Linked DNA regions of Homo sapiens: all the other regions are reported to be linked to region 7. Evidence: microRNA targets listed by miRTarBase, many of them from high-throughput screens and not tested one by one. Region 7 holds a microRNA gene; each other region holds the end of a gene's coding sequence.
What was found. Region 7 holds the annotated microRNA hsa-miR-1277-5p (AAAUAUAUAUAUAUAUGUACGUAU, at 2,091-2,114, shown strand). A microRNA usually pairs through its seed, bases 2 to 8, with sites in the 3' UTR of a target mRNA and lowers its output. Matches are read on the target gene's strand: a 7mer-m8 pairs with bases 2 to 8, a 7mer-A1 pairs with bases 2 to 7 and ends in A, and an 8mer does both.

Region 1: the mRNA of WNT5A is a reported target of hsa-miR-1277-5p. The part of its 3' UTR that is shown has no 7-base or 8-base seed match.
Region 2: the mRNA of MIPOL1 is a reported target of hsa-miR-1277-5p. Seed matches in the 3' UTR shown: 8mer at 791-798, 8mer at 1,185-1,192 and 7mer-m8 at 2,717-2,723.
Region 3: miRTarBase lists CARF as a target of hsa-miR-1277-5p. Seed matches in the 3' UTR shown: 7mer-m8 at 829-835 and 7mer-A1 at 1,766-1,772.
Region 4: the mRNA of ARSJ is a reported target of hsa-miR-1277-5p. Seed matches in the 3' UTR shown: 7mer-m8 at 951-957, 7mer-m8 at 1,437-1,443 and 7mer-A1 at 1,756-1,762.
Region 5: the mRNA of C4orf33 is a reported target of hsa-miR-1277-5p. Seed matches in the 3' UTR shown: 7mer-A1 at 1,211-1,217, 7mer-m8 at 1,382-1,388, 7mer-m8 at 1,868-1,874 and 7mer-m8 at 2,239-2,245.
Region 6: the mRNA of PPP2R5E is a reported target of hsa-miR-1277-5p. The part of its 3' UTR that is shown has no 7-base or 8-base seed match.

The regions. Positions count from the first base shown.
Region 1 is chr3:55,467,212-55,470,623 of GRCh38, reverse strand. It overlaps WNT5A (Wnt family member 5A), which reads left to right. Exons shown (of 5, transcript NM_003392.7): 5 at 74-3,412. The coding sequence ends at 532. Among named protein-coding and RNA genes, the nearest start is that of WNT5A, 18 kb to the left of the region's middle.
Region 2 is chr14:37,546,378-37,549,814 of GRCh38, forward strand. MIPOL1 (mirror-image polydactyly 1) reads left to right here. Exons shown (of 13, transcript NM_001388067.1): 13 at 528-3,437. The coding sequence ends at 594. Among named protein-coding and RNA genes, the nearest start is that of FOXA1, 47 kb to the right of the region's middle. RefSeq lists a silencer at 467-761.
Region 3 is chr2:202,982,932-202,986,368 of GRCh38, forward strand. It overlaps CARF (calcium responsive transcription factor), which reads left to right. Exons shown (of 17, transcript NM_024744.17): 17 at 575-3,437. The coding sequence ends at 693. Among named protein-coding and RNA genes, the nearest start is that of NBEAL1, 30 kb to the right of the region's middle.
Region 4 is chr4:113,899,303-113,902,739 of GRCh38, reverse strand. ARSJ (arylsulfatase family member J) reads left to right here. Exons shown (of 2, transcript NM_024590.4): 2 at 1-2,456. The coding sequence ends at 466. Among named protein-coding and RNA genes, the nearest start is that of ARSJ, 79 kb to the left of the region's middle.
Region 5 is chr4:129,111,182-129,114,618 of GRCh38, forward strand. C4orf33 (chromosome 4 open reading frame 33) reads left to right here. Exons shown (of 6, transcript NM_001099783.2): 6 at 505-3,437. The coding sequence ends at 610. Among named protein-coding and RNA genes, the nearest start is that of C4orf33, 17 kb to the left of the region's middle.
Region 6 is chr14:63,373,440-63,376,439 of GRCh38, forward strand. PPP2R5E (protein phosphatase 2 regulatory subunit B'epsilon) reads right to left here. Exons shown (of 14, transcript NM_006246.5): 14 at 1-2,669. The coding sequence ends at 2,570. Among named protein-coding and RNA genes, the nearest start is that of GPHB5, 56 kb to the left of the region's middle.
Region 7 is chrX:118,384,311-118,387,747 of GRCh38, forward strand. MIR1277 (microRNA 1277) reads left to right here and starts at 2,084; the gene lies at 2,084-2,161. WDR44 (WD repeat domain 44) reads left to right here. Exons shown (of 20, transcript NM_019045.5): 3 at 3,030-3,104.

The DNA of each region.
Region 1 (3,412 bases), not on the chromosome of region 7:
AGAACTTTGTTCCTATAGCCTGCATCTGGCTCCTCCATGAATGTGTGTATTGATTGCCCCCATTTCCCTGCAGACGGTGTACAACCTGGCTGATGTGGCCTGCAAGTGCCATGGGGTGTCCGGCTCATGTAGCCTGAAGACATGCTGGCTGCAGCTGGCAGACTTCCGCAAGGTGGGTGATGCCCTGAAGGAGAAGTACGACAGCGCGGCGGCCATGCGGCTCAACAGCCGGGGCAAGTTGGTACAGGTCAACAGCCGCTTCAACTCGCCCACCACACAAGACCTGGTCTACATCGACCCCAGCCCTGACTACTGCGTGCGCAATGAGAGCACCGGCTCGCTGGGCACGCAGGGCCGCCTGTGCAACAAGACGTCGGAGGGCATGGATGGCTGCGAGCTCATGTGCTGCGGCCGTGGCTACGACCAGTTCAAGACCGTGCAGACGGAGCGCTGCCACTGCAAGTTCCACTGGTGCTGCTACGTCAAGTGCAAGAAGTGCACGGAGATCGTGGACCAGTTTGTGTGCAAGTAGTGGGTGCCACCCAGCACTCAGCCCCGCTCCCAGGACCCGCTTATTTATAGAAAGTACAGTGATTCTGGTTTTTGGTTTTTAGAAATATTTTTTATTTTTCCCCAAGAATTGCAACCGGAACCATTTTTTTTCCTGTTACCATCTAAGAACTCTGTGGTTTATTATTAATATTATAATTATTATTTGGCAATAATGGGGGTGGGAACCAAGAAAAATATTTATTTTGTGGATCTTTGAAAAGGTAATACAAGACTTCTTTTGATAGTATAGAATGAAGGGGAAATAACACATACCCTAACTTAGCTGTGTGGACATGGTACACATCCAGAAGGTAAAGAAATACATTTTCTTTTTCTCAAATATGCCATCATATGGGATGGGTAGGTTCCAGTTGAAAGAGGGTGGTAGAAATCTATTCACAATTCAGCTTCTATGACCAAAATGAGTTGTAAATTCTCTGGTGCAAGATAAAAGGTCTTGGGAAAACAAAACAAAACAAAACAAACCTCCCTTCCCCAGCAGGGCTGCTAGCTTGCTTTCTGCATTTTCAAAATGATAATTTACAATGGAAGGACAAGAATGTCATATTCTCAAGGAAAAAAGGTATATCACATGTCTCATTCTCCTCAAATATTCCATTTGCAGACAGACCGTCATATTCTAATAGCTCATGAAATTTGGGCAGCAGGGAGGAAAGTCCCCAGAAATTAAAAAATTTAAAACTCTTATGTCAAGATGTTGATTTGAAGCTGTTATAAGAATTAGGATTCCAGATTGTAAAAAGATCCCCAAATGATTCTGGACACTAGATTTTTTTGTTTGGGGAGGTTGGCTTGAACATAAATGAAAATATCCTGTTATTTTCTTAGGGATACTTGGTTAGTAAATTATAATAGTAAAAATAATACATGAATCCCATTCACAGGTTCTCAGCCCAAGCAACAAGGTAATTGCGTGCCATTCAGCACTGCACCAGAGCAGACAACCTATTTGAGGAAAAACAGTGAAATCCACCTTCCTCTTCACACTGAGCCCTCTCTGATTCCTCCGTGTTGTGATGTGATGCTGGCCACGTTTCCAAACGGCAGCTCCACTGGGTCCCCTTTGGTTGTAGGACAGGAAATGAAACATTAGGAGCTCTGCTTGGAAAACAGTTCACTACTTAGGGATTTTTGTTTCCTAAAACTTTTATTTTGAGGAGCAGTAGTTTTCTATGTTTTAATGACAGAACTTGGCTAATGGAATTCACAGAGGTGTTGCAGCGTATCACTGTTATGATCCTGTGTTTAGATTATCCACTCATGCTTCTCCTATTGTACTGCAGGTGTACCTTAAAACTGTTCCCAGTGTACTTGAACAGTTGCATTTATAAGGGGGGAAATGTGGTTTAATGGTGCCTGATATCTCAAAGTCTTTTGTACATAACATATATATATATATACATATATATAAATATAAATATAAATATATCTCATTGCAGCCAGTGATTTAGATTTACAGTTTACTCTGGGGTTATTTCTCTGTCTAGAGCATTGTTGTCCTTCACTGCAGTCCAGTTGGGATTATTCCAAAAGTTTTTTGAGTCTTGAGCTTGGGCTGTGGCCCTGCTGTGATCATACCTTGAGCACGACGAAGCAACCTTGTTTCTGAGGAAGCTTGAGTTCTGACTCACTGAAATGCGTGTTGGGTTGAAGATATCTTTTTTCTTTTCTGCCTCACCCCTTTGTCTCCAACCTCCATTTCTGTTCACTTTGTGGAGAGGGCATTACTTGTTCGTTATAGACATGGACGTTAAGAGATATTCAAAACTCAGAAGCATCAGCAATGTTTCTCTTTTCTTAGTTCATTCTGCAGAATGGAAACCCATGCCTATTAGAAATGACAGTACTTATTAATTGAGTCCCTAAGGAATATTCAGCCCACTACATAGATAGCTTTTTTTTTTTTTTTTTTAATAAGGACACCTCTTTCCAAACAGTGCCATCAAATATGTTCTTATCTCAGACTTACGTTGTTTTAAAAGTTTGGAAAGATACACATCTTTCATACCCCCCTTAGGCAGGTTGGCTTTCATATCACCTCAGCCAACTGTGGCTCTTAATTTATTGCATAATGATATTCACATCCCCTCAGTTGCAGTGAATTGTGAGCAAAAGATCTTGAAAGCAAAAAGCACTAATTAGTTTAAAATGTCACTTTTTTGGTTTTTATTATACAAAAACCATGAAGTACTTTTTTTATTTGCTAAATCAGATTGTTCCTTTTTAGTGACTCATGTTTATGAAGAGAGTTGAGTTTAACAATCCTAGCTTTTAAAAGAAACTATTTAATGTAAAATATTCTACATGTCATTCAGATATTATGTATATCTTCTAGCCTTTATTCTGTACTTTTAATGTACATATTTCTGTCTTGCGTGATTTGTATATTTCACTGGTTTAAAAAACAAACATCGAAAGGCTTATGCCAAATGGAAGATAGAATATAAAATAAAACGTTACTTGTATATTGGTAAGTGGTTTCAATTGTCCTTCAGATAATTCATGTGGAGATTTTTGGAGAAACCATGACGGATAGTTTAGGATGACTACATGTCAAAGTAATAAAAGAGTGGTGAATTTTACCAAAACCAAGCTATTTGGAAGCTTCAAAAGGTTTCTATATGTAATGGAACAAAAGGGGAATTCTCTTTTCCTATATATGTTCCTTACAAAAAAAAAAAAAAAAGAAATCAAGCAGATGGCTTAAAGCTGGTTATAGGATTGCTCACATTCTTTTAGCATTATGCATGTAACTTAATTGTTTTAGAGCGTGTTGCTGTTGTAACATCCCAGAGAAGAATGAAAAGGCACATGCTTTTATCCGTGACCAGATTTTTAG
Region 2 (3,437 bases), not on the chromosome of region 7:
GTTTCCCACCTAACCACTATTTCTGGCTTTATGTTTATCAGCTGATTCTATGAAAAGATGGGAATTTAGTACATAGAAGTTACACAGTATACCAACCAATGAATCACTTATCTAAGTAACAGGTGAAACATTGCTGATATTTGTGTTTTGAAATATGTGCTTTTCTTAGGTAAAATCAGTTTATTCTACATTTAATATGTGATCCTGTCATTGCATAGTAAATGATTCATTCACAACCTTAATGCAAGTAGCTAAATGTATTGAAATAAGTGTCCTATAAATTTTGTGTGGCATCTAATGCTGACATAATTCAAGGATCTGGGTTAAAGTTTGTGTCGTTGCTGGGTTTTTTAACCTCAAATACTTGGCACTCTGTAGCAGTGTCTCTCACAGTAATGCTTTGTTTCTTAACATGACCGTGAGGACTGCTTGGTCACAGGCAAATACTGTCCTTTATCAGCCAGGACATTCTTAACAATAATTGCCCTTTTTTTCCCCTTCTCACCCCCATCCCAACCCCAACTTAGGTTGGAAAGGCTGGTGGATGTACTGAGGAAGAAGGTTGGAACCGGGACCATGAGGACAGTGATCTGATTGAAAAAAAACGACAGTCTGGGGAAGCGATCACATCTGGTGACCAGGCTGCTTCATTCAACACTGTGTAAACACCAAAGCCTTAACTTAGCAAACAGTTGTTAGAAGTGGGACACTCCAACCACATTCCAAGCTGAGATAAAATCAAATCACAAATGTTTAACCACTTTGCTGCTGACTTGAGTTATTTATCCAAATATATTAACTATAGACTTTTACCAATGGGTAGCTATAAGGTTACAGCTTATTTTGTAACTATTTTATATCTCAATATCTTTAATATAAATCTTTTTACTGAGAGATCATTATAGAAACATGTTAAAGTTGGTTAGGATCATATCTTCACATATGGCCCTTTCTGAATCAAAGTGCGGCAAAGTAAATATTGTCTAAGCTTTAATCCACTGTGTTAGGTCAAAACTTCAAATACATGCATTTTTCAATATAGGGTATATTTCTTAACTGATGAGAGAGGCTTAGACATGAGTGTGTAGTCTTCCTTCAATGCGTGTATGTAATCTTTGTTAGTATAAAAGATATTAAATATAGGTGCCAAGAATTAAATGTATAATTTGTTTAATAAGAGATGGATATATTAAAATTACATTCATCAAGGCATGATTTTTGTTTCACTACAAATAATGCAAACTGTTTTCAATAAAAAGAGGAGACTGTTAATGTGTACTTATAAATTCACATTGTCAGTATTTTTTAATATTGGGTCTGAATAATTATCTGAATTCTACTTAAGCTATAAGTCTCTGTCATTTTTGCTTGAAAATTAGCATGCCTCTGTCTTAAAAGAGACCATCAAACCTATTAAGTATTCTTATTGTTTATCTTTTTTTAATTGCCATTTGATTTTTATTGTGGAGGAGGAGGATCTAATATATAATATTCAATACAATTGTAATGTAGAAATATAAGAATTTAGAAAAAAGTAAACTTGCCATTTGGTTAAGGTTACCTGCTTTTTATTTTATTCCAGAAATAAGATAGTTACAGCATAGCAGTCATATGAAGTTATGAATAGAACTGAGATTTTTATGTAATTAGTTATAGGCAAAATACTTTCATATTTTTAGATTAGACAGACGAAAGACCAAGAGGAAATGACTGTGCCTGGAACAGGATGAAATAGACAAGTAGAGATTTAATTAGCAAAAATTTTGTAGGGAAGTAAAATTTTTTCTAAGTCTATACGTTTTTAATTCATCTTTAAGATTGAGCTAAATTATCTACCATTGCCTATTTACAGGATAAGTACATTCAGGACAATTTATTGTACCATTCTTTCATATACCATAGCAGATTATCCATTTCAATTTTTTTTTACTCCACAGGAAAATGTAAGCTACTTTGTCATAGATCACAAAAGAATCATAATGCTAACAAACTCTATTTCTTCCTTATTAAATCTGTATCCATTAAAGTAACTTTTTTAACTATGAGAATTAGAAAATAAGGGACAACAGGGGTTAAAAATAAACTGATTTAATTTGCTCTATAGTCCTAAAGAGAATTATATCCTCTCATAGACCAATGACTCTATAATAGAGAAATATGTAATGATTTGGTCATGCATGGAGTCTTGTCTCTGGGCTCTATTTGAAACGTGTAACAGCTCCCTATGTGAAGAAACATTATCTTTAAAGTCATCTGGGAGGTGCAGGTAAGTAAAGAGAAACAATTTTTGTCACAAAGTAGTCCATTCCTGATCTCACTTAAAATAAATCACAAGTAAATTTGAATTTTCGGTTTAATGTTGAAAGCAGATGAACTTTTCTTGAGTTATTTTGTCTTTTAGAATACACAAAATATAGTATAAAGACATTTCACAATTTCCAAACAAATCTTTCTACGCTTAAATGATCAAATTAGAAAAACCAATTCCTATAATTAATATGCAGAACTTTTATAGAATATGATATTATAAAGTTAAATTTGCAAAATAATTCTAACATCCACTATTGTTCAGTATAGGTAATCTCCCAAAAATATCACATCCTCTTGAAAATGAATTGTCTACAAAATTTCAAATGCAAAGTATTACAGCCAAATATTATCTTAATTAATTTCTTACACTTAAAAGTGTCCATCAACAGTGTGTCAGATGGTCTTTATATATTTTTTCTGTATGAAGGAATAGCCTTGCCTACTGAAGATAGGTTCTCTATGTATTCAACAATAATGCAACTTTAGAAGTATTCCACACTGCTGAGAAATGTTGCTTTGAGTTTGCTTTACACATCATCAACTCTAAATCCTATAGTAACATGAGAATTCACTTCTTCTTGTAAAAATAAGTAATTTACAGGAAAGGCAAAATGCTAATACTAACATTTGTAGCACTTGATGATTTACAAAGTCCTTTTACATCTGTTTTTTCATTTGATCCTATCGACAATCATAATAATAATAAATTATATATATAACCCATATAATAACGATGGTGATGATAATTTTAGTATTACTGTCATTATAATTATTATTATATTCATTCTACAGATGAGGAAACAGACTCAGTAAGCCTTGGAATTTGCCAAGGACTGGCTAGGACCTAGAACTAAGATCTTATAACCACACTCCATGCAACTATGAGTCTCTAAATCTCTCTGTAAGAAAAAAATTTCAAAGTAAAGATTTTACTCTTGCAATTTCTGTTGTGATAGTACCATCTCTTTCACATACTACATACAAATTCCCTAATAATCAAAAGATTGTACACATTTTTTTCAATGAAGTACAATAATGTGAACTGCATGTGTAAACAGCATCACATTATTACCACCTCTCTATGGTATTATAGTGGCAGTATGCTTTGCCTCAGCCTTCACTAATTA
Region 3 (3,437 bases), not on the chromosome of region 7:
CTGGAGTACAATGATGCAATCACAGGTCACTGCAGCCTTGACCTCCTTGGTTCAAGCGATCTTCCCACCTCAGCTTCCCAAGTAGCTGGGACCACAGGCACATGCCACCATACTGGGCAAATTCTTTAATTTTTTTTTTTTAAACCAGCCTGTTGCGCAGGCTGGTCTTGAACTCCTGGGCTCAAGCAATCCTCCCACCTCAGCCTCCCACTCCTCACGCAGTGAGCCACTGCACCTGGCCAAAAGGAAGATTTGGAATTACAAAATAAATGTTGAGTTGAAAGGGAACTAGTAAGACTTGGGCATTTAGGTTTAGCCCAAGACCTTCTTACCTTCACTTTATTACTAATCTCTGTCAACATAGAAGTAAACTCTGTTAACTCCTACTTTATCTGTTACTTCTTTGCACATGAATTGTTCTGGATTGGGCACTTTTGTGGGAAAAGATTTGCAGTTTGCTTTGAAGAACAAAAGTTTTCACAGAAGTTATTTTTAGAATATAAAATATTTTTCCCCTCTCTTCCAGTGTCATGAAATAGATTAACTTTTAGGATTTTTCTGTTTGTTTTTAAAGTTGAAGAAAATCCAGAAAGTACCATTTCTGTGAGCCAAGTTAAACAAGAACCCAAAGAACCAGCATTGTCTATGGAAGCAAAAAAAACTGTGGACTATAAGAAATTATCTGCTACATAAATTATTGAAGCTTTTCAGAATTTACAACTCTGGTGACTTCTGATGTCTTAGAAAGGAAGGTGAATATAGTCAAAGCGTGGCATTGAGATAATTGGACTGAAGACCAGTTTGATGAGAAGCTTTTATTTAAAACTGATATATTTGTTGCCAGTTCCATATTTTTACCTTCCTTAAGAGATGTTTTACTCTTCTTATTTTGTATAATTTTTATGCTCTTTGATTATCTAATAAGGCCAGTATTTCAAAAGCTGTTCTGAATTTATCCACAGTAATATAGTCTGAACACAAATAGTTTACTTAACTTATCCTTGGAAATATTCAATTTTGGTTATTACAAAACAGAAAAGAACAACAGCAACAAAAACATTGTGTGAATGTATGTTTGTATGTGTGTATGTATATCATGAATTTTTTTTTTAAGTTCTGAAAAAGAACTTGTTCTCTCCTTAAAGTTGTGAAGAAATTGTTAATTGCCAGACAGGTAAGAAAATGTTTATAATCTATCTCATTAAGAAAGATGAAGTATTAGATTTTACATCATAACACAAAGTCCAGCAGCTACATCTGTGGAAACTGTGCAGTTGCATTTTAGCCTCTTCCCTTCCAATTTTTGTACTTTTAACTACAAACCAGTAGTATACTAATGGTTATCTAATAGAAATTTAAAGTGTCTTGGTAAGTACTGAGAATTTTTACTTGAATTAATCAGATAAGCAACAGAAATCAACATATGTAGCATGGATTTGTGCTATATTGGAAGTAAAACACTATAGGCAGAAAGATGTAGAAATTAAGAGAATTGAAAAAGAATAATAGAATTCCTTGGTGTTTACAGATAATTTGGAAAACTTTTTGATGACAGCAGAGGATTTTTTCCCCCTTATTTTGTAATGAAGATCCAGCACTGGTTAAAAAATAATTTGATTTGTAGTTACATTTTTCTATGCCAGAGCTCTTACTGAATTGATGATATTAGGATTTCTAGTATTTTAAGGTAAGTATTTATAGTTTAAAATTTAGTTTATATTTAAAACTTTAAAACATCTGATCTGGGATTTTTTTGTTAAGTAAGTATATTAACTTCAAATACCAAATTACTACTAAGCAGTATATTGATTATAAGCATCTGTTGTCTAAAGATTGGTACTAGGCTGGACATGGTGGCTCACACCTGTAATCACAATACTTTGGGAGGCTGAGGTGGGTAGATAACCTGAGGTCAGGAGTTCGAGACCAGCCTGGCCAACGTGGTGAAACCCTGTTTCTACTAAAAATACAAAAATTAGCTGGGTGTGGTGGTGGGCACCTGTAATCCCAGCTACTTGGGAGGCTAAGGCAGGAGAATCGCTTGAACACCGGAGGCGGAGGTTGCAATGAGCCGAGATCGCGCCATTGCACTCCAGCCTGGGTGACAAGAGAAAAACTCCATCTCAAAAAAAAAAAAAAGATTGGTAAACTAGAAATATCAACTATAATTGTCAGGAAATTAACCTAAAGGCTTTTGTTTCTCCAGAGACCATTTGTGGGTATATTTTATATTTTAAAAATAAAGATTTTAAATGGATATCAATGTTTAATATTCAAAACATGCACAATATAATATCAAATTTAACCTTAATACTTTACATGAATATGAGTCACTTTTGGCTTTTCTAAGTCCAGCCTCCCATTCTTAATTGACTTGGTTTCAGGTACATGACATGTATCTAAATATAAAGTACTGTTATAGTAGAGGTAGGTGGAATTCTAATATTCCCTGCTCTTTAGATTTATATTTTATTTAATATAAAGTTTATTATTTATACCCTTTTTAATGCAAAGCTAATATTTAGTTATATGTATGATTTTTAATAAAAATTACTTTACTTTTTCCTATGAATTTAAAACATTTGATGTTGGCATTTTATACAGGCAGGTTGCCAAATTTAATTATGTTACACTAAGTTAAACACAGCACTTAATTACCTCAAATCCAGATTTCTCTTAATCTGTGTGTACATAAAAGGAATAAGTCCAAATTAATTTATAGTTTAGTGTTGCACTATAGGTAATATTCTTTTGTTATTTCTAGTTTTTATGGAATCCTTTTCTTTCAAGATTCTAAATAATAAATCGTTACGTCTCAATAGTGGTAATAGTGGTAATGGTTTATTATTAGCTGTTTCACCAATTGAACTACATTCTTTTGGAGACATTCCTTTCTTTTTTGATGTTGATTTGCAAAGGAGAAATGCTTGTTAATATACAAACTCTAGTCAGTTACCTGTGAGGATGAGATGTGTCAGAGGACTCAGACTTTGGTATAGTTAGAAAAATAATATTTTTCTCACTTGATTCTGTGTGAATGTCTCTTCTGATACTGTTTTTTAATCAGAAAGTTACAGAGCAACTTTCCCACAAACAAACCAATAAAACAAAACCCCACAAAAACCAAGAGCATGAAGAAAAGTTTAAATCCCTAATTATATACTCTTTTGGTTTTTAGGTAGAAACTGGAGCTATCAATATTTTCATGTAAGTATTTCAAGGAGTAGCTCTTTAAAAATGGTTTCTAAATTAGATTTTAAAAATTCATTGTCATCTAAATGCATGTTTAGTCACAATGTATCAGTATTGTGTTTAAAGGTGCTCAGCATCACTTTTTGAAAACTATGTTTACATATTTAAAATGTTTAATTATTTTGAAATGTATAGGGTATTAAATACAAGCTTCTAAAATTTTCAGTATCTATATTGGCTTTCTC
Region 4 (3,437 bases), not on the chromosome of region 7:
CCAGTCAGCCATCAGAGTGCAGCACTGGAAATTGCTTACAGGAAATCCTGGCTACAGCGACTGGGTCCCCCCTCAGTCTTTCAGCAACCTGGGACCGAACCGGTGGCACAATGAACGGATCACCTTGTCAACTGGCAAAAGTGTATGGCTTTTCAACATCACAGCCGACCCATATGAGAGGGTGGACCTATCTAACAGGTATCCAGGAATCGTGAAGAAGCTCCTACGGAGGCTCTCACAGTTCAACAAAACTGCAGTGCCGGTCAGGTATCCCCCCAAAGACCCCAGAAGTAACCCTAGGCTCAATGGAGGGGTCTGGGGACCATGGTATAAAGAGGAAACCAAGAAAAAGAAGCCAAGCAAAAATCAGGCTGAGAAAAAGCAAAAGAAAAGCAAAAAAAAGAAGAAGAAACAGCAGAAAGCAGTCTCAGGTTCAACTTGCCATTCAGGTGTTACTTGTGGATAAGCACAAATATTTCCTGTTTGGTTAAACTTTAATCAGTTCTTATCTTTCATCTGTTTCCTAGGTAAACCAGCAAATTTGGCTCGATAATATCGCTGGCCTAAGCGTCAGGCTTGTTTTCATGCTGTGCCACTCCAGAGACTTCTGCCACCTGGCCGCCACACTGAAAACTGTCCTGCTCAGTGCCAAGGTGCTACTCTTGCAAGCCACACTTAGAGAGAGTGGAGATGTTTATTTCTCTTGCTCCTTTAGAAAACGTGGTGAGTCCTGAGTTCCACTGCTGTGCTTCAGTCAACTGACCAAACACTGCTTTGAATTATAGGAGGAGAACAATAACCTACCATCCGCAAGCATGCTAATTTGATGGAAGTTACAGGGTATACCATCCGCAAGCATGCTAATTTGATGGAAGTTACAGGGTAGCATGATTAAAACTACCTTTGATAAATTACAGTCAAAGATTGTGTCACCTCAAAGGCCTTGAAGAATATATTTTCTTGGTGAATTTTTGTATGTCTGTCATATGACACTTGGGTTTTTTAATTAATTCTATTTTATATATATATATATGTTTCTTTTCCTGTGAAAAGCTGTTTTTCTCACATGTGAACAGCTTGCACCTCATTTTACCATGCGTGAGGGAATGGCAAATAAGAATGTTTGAGCACACTGCCCACAATGAATGTAACTATTTTCTAAACACTTTACTAGAAGAACATTTCAGTATAAAAAACCTAATTTATTTTTACAGAAAAATATTTTGTTGTTTTTATAAAAAGTTATGCAAATGACTTTATTTTATTTTTATTTCCTGCATACCATTAGAATAATTTTATTTCATTTCTTCAAATTACCAAGCACTGTAATACTATAAATTAATGTAATACTGTGTGAATTCAGACTATAAAAAACATCATTCAGAAAACTTTATAATCGTCATTGTTCAACCAAGATTTTGAATGTAATAAGATGAATATATTCCTTACAAATTACTTGGAAATTCAATGTTTGTGCAGAGTTGAGACAACTTTATTGTTTCTATCATAAACTATTTATGTATCTTAATTATTAAAATGATTTACTTTATGGCACTAGAAAATTTACTGTGGCTTTTCTGATCTAACTTCTAGCTAAAATTGTATCATTGGTCCTAAAAAATAAAAATCTTTACTAATAGGCAATTGAAGGAATGGTTTGCTAACAACCACAGTAATATAATATGATTTTACAGATAGATGCTTCCCCTTGGCTATGACATGGAGAAAGATTTTCCCATAATAATAACTAACATTTATATTAGGTTGGTGCAAAACTAGTTGCGGTTTTTCCCATTAAAAGTAATAAACTTACTCTTATACAAAGTGGACACTGTGGGGAGATACAGAGAAATGGAAGATACGGATCCTGCCTGGAGTAGGTAACCTTGCTTGGAAACCCCACATGCAAACGTCATGAGGAGAATTAAAGGAGTATTATCAGTAATGAAGTTTATCATGGGTCATCAATGAGCATAGATTGGTGTGGATCCTGTAGACCCTGGTGTTTTCTTTGAAGTGCCCTCTCCTAATGCAGAGGCCTTGAAGCTTACAGTATACACTTGAAAAGTCACAGATAGCTAGAATTATGATCTTTGAAGTTATAACTGTGATCTGAAAATGTGTGTGGTGGTATGACAGCATACCATTAAATACATTTACATCACAGCTCAAAGGACTGTGATATAATCCATTTATATCACAACTCAAAGGACTGTGATATAATCCATTTATATCACAGCTCACAGTTTCTGAAAATGTATAAAAGAATCTATAATCTAGTACTGAAATTACTAAATTGGGTAAGATGATTTAAATGATTTTAATTTTAACATTTTATTTCTAGAATATATGGCTCCATTTTATTTTATAGTGTAAAGTTGTATTTCCTAAAGTTTGTGTTTTGTCGACAGTATCTTTTAAATGAGTCTTAAAAATAAAGGCATATTGTTCATGTTTTTCTTTCCTGGTGGCACATAAATGACATGTCTTAAAATAGATGGCATCTTATACATTTTTTAAAAATAGACATCTTTACACTAAAAAAGAGTTCTGAAGAAAGTAAGTTTGGGAGATGCTGGGTTAAAGAACGTCAAAGGAGTCACTTTAATGCAGGTTTTTCTTTTAGAGGAGTTTTTAAAATCTTAGCTTGTATTGTAACCCTGACAGAAGGAAAATGTTATACAGTATTTCATAATTTCACCACAAAACTGCTGTCTGTGGCACAATGCACAGGACTAGGGTTCTGAGGAACTATACTGTTATTGGAAACATAGTGTAAACATAGAATCTTCTAGAAGTTCCTAGAAAGACAAAAAAAGAAGCAAAGAGGCAAATTAGGATTAAGAAATACCAGTAGGCATCACCTATTGTGATGTAATTCTAAGTTCTCTATAAATGATTATAATCTTCTCAGTGAAAATAATTTAGCCCACAGTGTTCTACTGGAAATGGCTTCATGGATGTTGATCACTGTTTTAGAGAGTACCTGCCACCTGCCCAGGGCTCTAGGCAGGATGTGGTTTACAAGAAGTCTCAGTGTCTTGCCCTCAAGAAATTAAAATATAATCTAATAGTCATGTATAAGTCATGAACAAAAATGTTTCTAAAAATGCTGGCAGCAAATCACTAGGGATTTCAAGATGGCCAGGAAGGAAAACACTGTGTCCTTGAGTTTTGTGCCCTAATCACTGATGCCATGTTAATATGAGGAATTCATTCTCAGGTGTTAGCTTCCTAAACTGTGATCTTCAGGATGTGTTTCTAGGCTGCCTGTGGTTCTTTCAAGTGTCAACTGCACCTCTTTTAAACCTCTGATCTTTCTTAGGGTTTCAAAAGAAACTCTCATTAGCTTTGTCAGAAAATAATTTTTGAATATGGCTATGTTTCTGGGTTGAGAAGGGATATAAAAACTTTTTTCCAATGAAAACATCAACAAC
Region 5 (3,437 bases), not on the chromosome of region 7:
CTTAATGTAGTTAAGTGGTTTTCCTCGAAAGAAAAGAACTGGGATTAATACTCTTTTACATTAACCTCTCTTGCTTCAGCAGAGAAGGGAATTAAGAAGTCTATCTTATCAATGGAACTGAAACTTTTCAAAACAATTGCTTATATGACTGATATAAATTATATCAAAGTTTGAATATAAAAACATATGCAAGAGCATAATATGATTTGTTTAAAGCTGGATGGAATGAGTTATGTTTTGAGAACTGATTTCTCCCTTCAGCTGTGAGGGAGTTATTTGCAGAATTGAAAGAAGAGTGCTTTGAGATGCAGGTGAATGTTTTCAGAGCTGAGTGTTTGACAGCTAGAGTGAGAAAACTGTACATATAAAATATATCTTACCTTTAGTATTGCTTAAAATAGAATGTTGTATTACAGTTGTGACAAAATAAATAGCCCTTCAGGACAACTATTTCACAAATGCATAATTCATTTCAATTCCCACCTTCTTTTTCTTTGCTTTTAGCCATTGCCTAGAATACTTCAAGTCTTTCAATTTTAACACACTGCTTGGAGAAGAGTGGAAACAACCGGAATCAGACCTGTGGCTAATAGAGAAATGTGATATATAGGAGTAATAGATAACCATACCGATCATTTTTTCCTCTATACCTTTTAAGATAAACAAAAAATAAATATCAATTTTTTAAGATGTCATGCATACATTTCAACAACAAATATCTTCATAGAAGTCACTGAAAATATAGTATCTGTGGCAAATTGTATATGATTAACAAGAAAATATATGATTCTTTGTAGATGATTTCATCTGTAAAGTCACAATGTTTCTCAGAGTCACTTAGTCCAGGATGTTGCATTCCCAGCACACAGTACAGTTATTCTTGAAAACTACAAGTGAAAAAGGGGGAACAATTGAGGTTGTCCAAGGCCACCTAGAGGACTGTCTTGCACTACCTTGTGATTCAACCATTTCATTCCTAGATATATACCCCAGAAAAATGACTGCTCATAGCAGCTTTATTCATAATAGCACAAAATTGTAAACAGTGAAATTTCCATCCATAGGAAAATGGATAGACAAACTACAATATAGTCAGTGGAATACTGTTCATTTAAAAAAGGACTGCTGATACATGCAACAACCTGTATGAATCTCAAAAACATTAAGTTGAGCAAAACAAACCAAACATAACATACTATCTAATTACTTTTATATTAAAGCCACTTCCAGGCAAAACTAATATTTGATGATAGATACCAGAACAGTGGCTGCTTAGAGTGAGGGCAGGGAATTCAAATTGAATGGAAAAGGGGCCTGAGGAAATTTTCCGGGGTGATTGAAATGTTTTGTATTTTGATCTGGATGATGGTTATGTAGCTGCATATATTTGTCAACATTCCTCATGCTGTATGTTTAGATTTGTGATTTTACTATATGTAAATTAATTCCTTAATAAAATACTATTATAAAATAAGCTGTAAATTAAATGGAATTAACTTCAAGTTTACATTGAGTTTATATGTTTCCATTGAACAATCACTAGTGATGGTTAAATGTGGCTTATCGACTTACTCATTTCTTATATATGTTCTCTATCTAAAAAGAGAGCTGGTGTAAGATAAATGCTAACTTTTACAAAAGGTATTATTAAGTATCCTGACTACACATCATGGTGGCAGTGTTAGGCATCTTAGATAAATTGAGAAATTATTCTTAAAACTGACAATAGCAACTAATTAATTTGATATAGAAACGATCTGCCTGTTTTAGATACGAATGGCATATTTTAAATAACCTAGGACGATTTATTTATAAATTACCTGAATAATTTTATAAATGCATATAAAACTATCAAAATAAAAACAAGATATATTTTAGAGCATCTTGATTTTAGAAGCGAATCGAACACTGTGAATCACAGTTTCAGATATAAATCATAACTATTTATAATATGGATAAAAATGAAGCACAAATATGATAGATACAATCACAACAATATAAAATACTGAATTTGAATGTTGTAGCTTGTGAGCTTTCTCAAATCTAATGTGTATCTTTTTAAAATTTGTTTAGATGTTTTTTAAACATCTCTTAACTTTCTTTCATCTAGATAAGGCATTTCCTTTTCTTCCAATACCAAGCAAGCAAAAATACATTATATAAACATTTTCTTTTGAAAGGAACATGCATATCAACTACAGAATTTCGGAAAGCTTGTCCATTAGTCAGGTACAAATGATATATTCTAGAAACTTGTATCCAAGAAACTTTTATTTGAGAGTGGGTGTTTGTAATAGCCATTTCAAATTTGTTTTTCAACTTCAGGACCATGAAAGAATAATCATCCTTTTGTTTAAAATATGCATAAATGCATTTCTTTGCTGTGATTTGAATTGTTCACTGCAGTGTCAAGCAGATTCTCTCTTCTCACCACCTAAATAGATTACACAATGTGCATATTTATTCAGGTGCATTCTCATGCTTTTTCCCAGCTCCAGGAAAGTGTAAGTCACAGTCTGAAGGGAAATGTGCTTTTTATTTTTGGCTCCAAACTACTTTTTTTAAACGTTAAAAAGGTTTTTTGCCACAGGAAAAAAAACATTTAATTTCCCCTCCTTCTCCTCCTTTTGCTCCTTTTTTAAATGTTAGGCTTTTGGAGGACAGAAGATAATGAGCATAATTAATCTGATATTGAAAAAGAAAGGGTAGCAAGTGGATAAAGCAATTACAGTAAGCCCTCAGCCCTTTTCTCATGCCTCAAAGCTTAAGGATTGTCTCTTCTTTTCCATGTAAATTTCCATAATATTTTACACATTGCTTTATTACAGCATTTATTTCACTGGTCCTAGATAGCTCTTCTGACCCACCTCCTATCCTCTCAGCCTAACTTTTTACTCCAGCCATCAGTTGCATACAGTGAACTGACTGGCCAGTTGCCTCAGCTGTACTGTGTATGTCTTACTTCCTGCCCCTAGGGCTTCTCTGCTTCCTCTGCTGTGTGGAACACTTGCAGGAACCCATTTAGCCATTCTCTCACATGAACTACCCGGGATGTGTGAAGGGACTAAAACACCCCATGGGGCACCTCTTGACCAAAGAGGGTGGGAGTTGATGGATAACTACTTCTCTGTTACATCCCTCAGTTTAACAATTTATGGTCCCTTCCACACAGCTCCTCAGAAGTTCTCTTAAAAGGATTCCACCCTGATTACCCACAGCAGTGGCCAACTAGTAACACATTTTTGCATTATCTTTCCTTCATTTCCATCATTTTCTGTTTTGCTCTTCCTGGTACCTCTCTCCTCTCTGGAATTGCTTAACTACAGTCAACCTCTTTGGAAGTTATTGTCCTATGTTTGCTTCATGGGGAACCCAGGCTAAGTCAGTGATTACCTAAAGCAGCCCTAGAAAGCCGTTCGTCAGGATGAGAATCTAGA
Region 6 (3,000 bases), not on the chromosome of region 7:
TTACCTCAGTTACTCTGCGTCACCGCACACAACATGACTAATGTCACATTGTCACTTTCCATTAAAAAAGAAAAAGACGGTGTTTCTTCTCAGAAGTTGCCCTACGAATTTTAGACATATAGCTTTAATTGATTCTATAAATATGTCTAAAATGTGGCTTTATTCTTCTCAGTTTGGAATGATCAACATACAAAATTGACATCAAGGAGGAGAGCTGTAAGTGTTCACCTTTACTCTTGAAGACAGGGTAAGGTACAAAAAAGGATCCTGGCCTTTCTCATTTCAAATGACTGCATTTCATTCCAATGAGCAGAGATTCTTCATAAACCTGTGATTTTAATGTCTTCTACCTAAAAAGATGAATTAATGGCAAACAAAAGTTTACACTATATAAACTAAATATAATGCAGAGTTGAAACTAAAGGGCTAAAATGACAAGGGCTAAAAAGGAGAAGATTTGTTACAAATTTATTTTTTATCACATTGTTCCAGCATTTTTAAAGTCAGTTGTTTCGTCTTTGGCAGCCTCTGCCAACTTTACAGTGAATCCCCATCAATGTTCTTTAAAAAAAAAAAAAAAAAAACTATTAATTCCATTAAACCATGTTGCGTCTGGTGTTGCATATGACTTTTTTTTTTTACTGCTTTTTTTTTTCTTTTTGGAATTAACAATGCCAGTTTTGTTTGTTTTTTTACAAAGTTACCGAGATGACAATATCCATAATTAGCTGACTCTTACGTACACACTGTGACCTGATCATCCTGAAAAACTTTATGGGGGAGAAAGGTCAGCAGCTTCTCTTTCTTTTTCTTGAAAATAATAAAACTGCGTATTCTACTTTATATTTAAATGTAAGGAAGAAAATATACAAGCCCATATTTATATTGTATTTCTATTAAGAGCAACAATAGTTCATATGTTCATGTTTGCTACTATCACAATTCAACATATGAACACAGATCAGCTCTATACCATGAATACTGCTGGAAGTGATGGTTTAGGATTACCAACTCACTGCTGCCATGACCAAAACAAGCAAATGCATCCTGGAAATAAACCTCCAAACACATATCTTTCAGTACGTAATAATGCAACTGCATTAGGTAAGTACATACTGTACACAAATTTTATCAGCAGTTTACCTACCCAAGATGTAAGATTCTTCATTTAAATACAAAGCAGAGAGCCAATAAGATATATATATATATATATATATATATATATATATAAAATACAGCCCTAGATTTTGTTTTTTTTGTTTTTTTTTCTTAAACAATTTGGTCACGATGCACCTTTGATATAAAAGCATTTTTAAACTTTATTATTAATACTCAGGACATTAGGAATTTCCAGATTTTTTTCAGTAGCATTTGTAGAACCACTTTTGGTAACAAATACAGTAGTTAGGAATATGCATCCAATTCAGAATGCATAATAATGTTTATCCTGAATCCTTTCCGGCTAAAAACAGGGCTGGCGCTGTGATGAGATATAGAACGAGAATCTACAAAAAACACTGTAACATGTTTGTTTTTTCCCAGAGGCTACATCCTCTTTTGCTGGAATACTTTATAAATACATATTAAAAAGTAAGGCAACAACTCCAAACAGTCCAAGCTGTTTGCTCAACTCTTTTCCCAATTAGATTTGCAATCCCGGTGATCAATTTCATGGTTGTATTGTTTAGTGTTTGTCTTTCTTATTTCAAATGGTCCAAAAGGATGTTTTTCTCACATTTCTAAAACATCTCTGGTATGTGTGTTCAATGATATATGCAACTAATACTGGTCAGGTACTGAAGCCTGTGATGTCCCAGTGCCTGTTTTCAAAGGATTCAAGACATTGATTTGGATTCACCATAAACTGATGCATGAATCCGATATTCCCTTCCCTACTATGTTTATCACCTCTTCTCTCTTAACTCCTAATTTTAAAACTAAAGGAGTACCAGGACTACCTGGTTACTGGAAAGATGTTCACCCCAGTAAACAAAACTTTTATCAGGGACTTTTATAATTCATGACCCCATTCCACGTGGACATTCAACTCAGGAAGATGTGCAAAAGAAAAAGATGTTAAATTACAGTCAAGTTATCCAGAGGAGGATGTTACACAAACTTATAAGGAAATGACAGTCTTTTTTTCTTCCTTTACTATAAATACATTTAACAGCTTAGCAGAAAGACAAGCTAAATTTAAGATTGTTCACATTTGAAAATTGTATCATACTCTCTGCTAGTGATAAATAAGGAACTCCCGATAATGGAATTTTAACATAGCAATTTCATCAACAGATCTTTGAAGACCGATTTTTTTTTTTAAAAGAGGGTGAGAACAATGATTATGTTTGCAAAGTTCTGAGAAGTCCATCTACTGTCCAAACTTTGGATTGAAGTCCTTATTTTGTTTTTTCCTTTACTTAGAGACAGGTATATACAGTGCTGCTGTAATAATGAAACAAAGGTGAAATCTACTGTAAAGTTGCACAATACAGAAAACTGTTGCTCCATCTTCTACTACATAAACGTGTGACTCCACAGGTTAGTAATGTTGTTGTCATTGTTTTTGTTAAGTTGGAATTATTCCATCACGTCTAAGACCTCTCTTTAACTCCAGATCCTCCAATTTTTTCCACAATTCTTCACGCTCCTTTTCTTTCTTTTTCTCACTGAGGAAGAAACAGAATACAATGTAAACAGCTGAGGTTTAATGAGATTATGCAACAATGAATATTTTACAATTTCACCTTAACACTCCTTTATACTTAGCTTAATTGAGAAAATTAACTTTAAAATTACTAAGAAACAAAAATGGGAATGACTTATATGCATCAGTTATTGTAAAATCAAGGGCATATTAGTGATTTTCACTTGCAGCTTAGTAAGAATCTTAATTTTTCTTTATCTCCAAATAGTTTCTCAAAAAGGATGCTGGAGATGACACTGATACAGAGAATATAGTAGGTCAAGAAAATATATCTGCTCCTTTATTCCTATTTT
Region 7 (3,437 bases):
GCTTACATTCTAGTGGGACAGGGAAGAGACAAAAAATAAGCAAGTAAATAAGGTCATTTCGAACGATAAGTGCAATGAAGGAAAATAGGATAATGTTTTCCCAGCACCATTTATTGAGTAGGGAAGCCTTTCCCCATTCTTTGTTTTCATCAGGTTTGTCGAAGATCAGATAGTTGTAGGTGTGCGGTCTTATTTCTGTATTCTCTATTCTGTTCTATTGGTCTGTGTGTCTCTTTTTGTACCAGTACCATGCTGTTTGGTAACTGTAGCACTGTAGCATAGTTTGAAGTCGGGTAGCATGATGCCTCCAGCTTTGTTCTTTTTGCTTAGGATTTGCCTTGGCTATTCAGGCTCTTTTTTGGTTCCCTATGAATTTTAAAATAAAATTTCCTAGTTCTGTGAAGAATCTCAGTGGTAGTTTAATAGTAATGGCATTAAGTCTATACATTGCCTTGGGCAGTGTGGCCATTTTAACGATATTGATTCTTCCTATCCATGAGCTTGGAATGTTTTTCCATTTGTTTGTGTCATCTCTGGTTTCTTTGAGCAGTGGTTTGTAGTTCTCCTTTCACCTCCCTAGTTAGCTGTATTCATAGGTATTTTCTTTTCGTGGCAATTGCAAATGATGGGAGTTTATTCCTGATTTGGCTCTCTGCTTGGCTGTTATTAGTGTATAATAATGCTAGTGATTTTTGCACATTTATTTTGTATCCTGAGACTTTGTTGAAGTTGTTTATCAGCTTAAGAATCTTTTGGGCTGAGACTATGGGTTATCTAGATATAAGATCATGTTGTCTGCAAACAGGGATAGTTTGACATCCTCTCCTCAATCCCATTACTGGGTATATACCCAAAGGAATATAAATCATTCTATTATAAAGACACATGCACACACATGTTCATTGCAGCACTATTCACAATAGCAAAGACATGAAATCAACCTAAATGCCCATCAATGATAGACTGGATAAAGAAAATGTAGTACATATACACCATGGAATACTATGCAGCCATAAAAAAGAACGAGATCATGTCCTTTGCAGGGCCATGGATGGAGCTGGAGGCCATTATCCTTAGCAAATCAATGCAGGAACAGAAAACCAAATACTGCATGTTCTCACTTATAGGTGGGAGCTAAATGATGTGGACACATGAACCCATAGAGGGGAACAACACATGTTGAGGCCTATCAGAGGGTGAAGGGTGGGAGGAGGGAGAGGATCAGGAAAAATGACTAATGTGTACTAGGCTTAATACCTGGGTGATGAAATAATCTGTGCAACAAAACCCCATGACACAAGTTTACCTGTGTAACAAATCTGCACATGTACCCCTGAACTTAAAGTTAAAAAAAAAAAGAAAAATAGGATAATGTGATAGAAAGTTAAGGAGTCAGCTAAGGCTATTTTGAGATGGTCAGGGAAGTATTTTCTGATAAAATAGCACTTGAGCTATGACCCTAATGGCAAGGAATCATCCTATTGGCCAGAATGTAATTGTGGGGGAGTGATATGAGAGGGAGATGAGGAGTGTAGAAGATATCAAAAATGTAGGCAGAGGCTATGTCATGTTTAGGCCTTCATGGGCCTTGGTACTGTTTGGATTTTATCTAATACTTAAGAGTCCATGAAACATTTTTTTTTTTCTAGAAGAATCTGTGTAAGATTGGTAGTATTCTCCAAATTCTGGGGGAGGAATTCAGTGCTCGAAGATATTGCAAGTCCTACAGAAATTTCACTGGCACGTTAAATCTTTAACATTTTAATAATCTCTGGAGTAATTTCATTATTGAGCCTATTGTGATCATATCCTGATACTTGTATAAGTGCCACCTAAATAATTAATGTGCCTTGAGTCCTTTATCTGTCTAAAATGGTTATAATGACCTTCCTCTAACAAACTCTGTGATGTGCACAAAGAATTATGGTTTTTTTTCCTCAGTATCAAGAGTAGCATTCAAATTGCTGTGCTTCTATAAATAGACAACTTAAGATTGAGAAGAGTATTGTATTGAGATTTGCAAATATATGATTGTCTTATTTTACCCTAATTTTTTCCAGCAGAAATGCAGTATCCATTTCTAACCTCCCAAATATATATATATATGTACGTATGTGTATATAAATGTATACGTAGATATATATGTATTTTTGGTGGGTTTAATTTTTTTCATCTTTTTTCATAGTTTTTTTAGGGGCTTCATTTAACTTCTGGTTAAGTCTTGATTTCTTTTATCTAAAGCATGTAGAATTTTAAGAAAACTATTCCCTGAATGTGGTTTTCTGTGTTATAAACTTTTGTATTTGTGCATATTTATGGAGCAATGCTTTGGGGAAAATAACAATTTTTATTCAGCCCCTTGCTTAAATCCTTAATCCTTTTTAGCTATAAAAGTACGTAGAAGTTCTTATCGTCCATTACAGTTTTTTAATGTTAAAAAGTTGAGCAAGTTTTCACATTTAAAGGTAAATATCCTATTGCAGAATAATAGAATATTGCTGATGGGTAACTTTCTTATGCAAATTACATTGTCCCATTTGGCATAAAATTTCTGAGCATCTATCAGTATTCAGAAATCTAAGCCCTTTAGGCTGGGCACAGTGGCTCACACCTATAATCCCAGCACTTTGGGAGGCTGAGGTGGGTAGATCACTTGAGGTCAGGAGTTCAAGACCAGCCTGGCCAACAAGGTGAAACTCTGTCTGTACTAAAATTACAAAAATTAGCCAGGTGTGGTGGCACGCGCCTATAATCCCAGCTACTCGGGAGGCTGAGGCAGGAGAATCACTTGAACCCGGGAAGCAGAGGTTGCAGTGAGCCAGGATTGTGCCACTGCACTCCAGCCTGGGTGACAGAGTAAAACTCTGTCTCAAAAAAAAAAAAAAAAAAAAAAGAAGAAGAAGAAATCAAAGCCCTTTAAGGGCCTTTGATTTATTAATGCTACATTTTCTCATTTGTACCCCTTTAAAGCATATTTTTAAAGAAAAGATGTCATCATTTGGTCTCTATTTCTTTTCTTTTTCAAACAGGAAACAGAGAACACTGCATACAAAGTTGGAAATGAGTCCCCTGTACAAGAATTGAAACAAGATGTGTCTAAAAAGGTTGGAAAGATACAATGTCAATATTAGTTTATAGCAGACATCATATTTATATGGTATATTTCAAACAGCTTTTATATTCTTTTAGTATAGCGCTCTGTACATGGCTGATGTTCAGCAAATGTTTCATGAATCTGTCACATTTGTGGTTGAAGACATTTCAGTCTTTTTAGAAGTCCTTTTCATATTCTAATTGGTAATTTATCCTTGAGACAATATTTTGTAAAATGCTTTTATTTTTTGTTCTTGTATTTTTATCAGAATAAGCCCTAACTCTTCTTGAGGTTACTACCAGGAGTTATGGGTATTGAAAAGCTCAGTGCAGCAACATTCTGA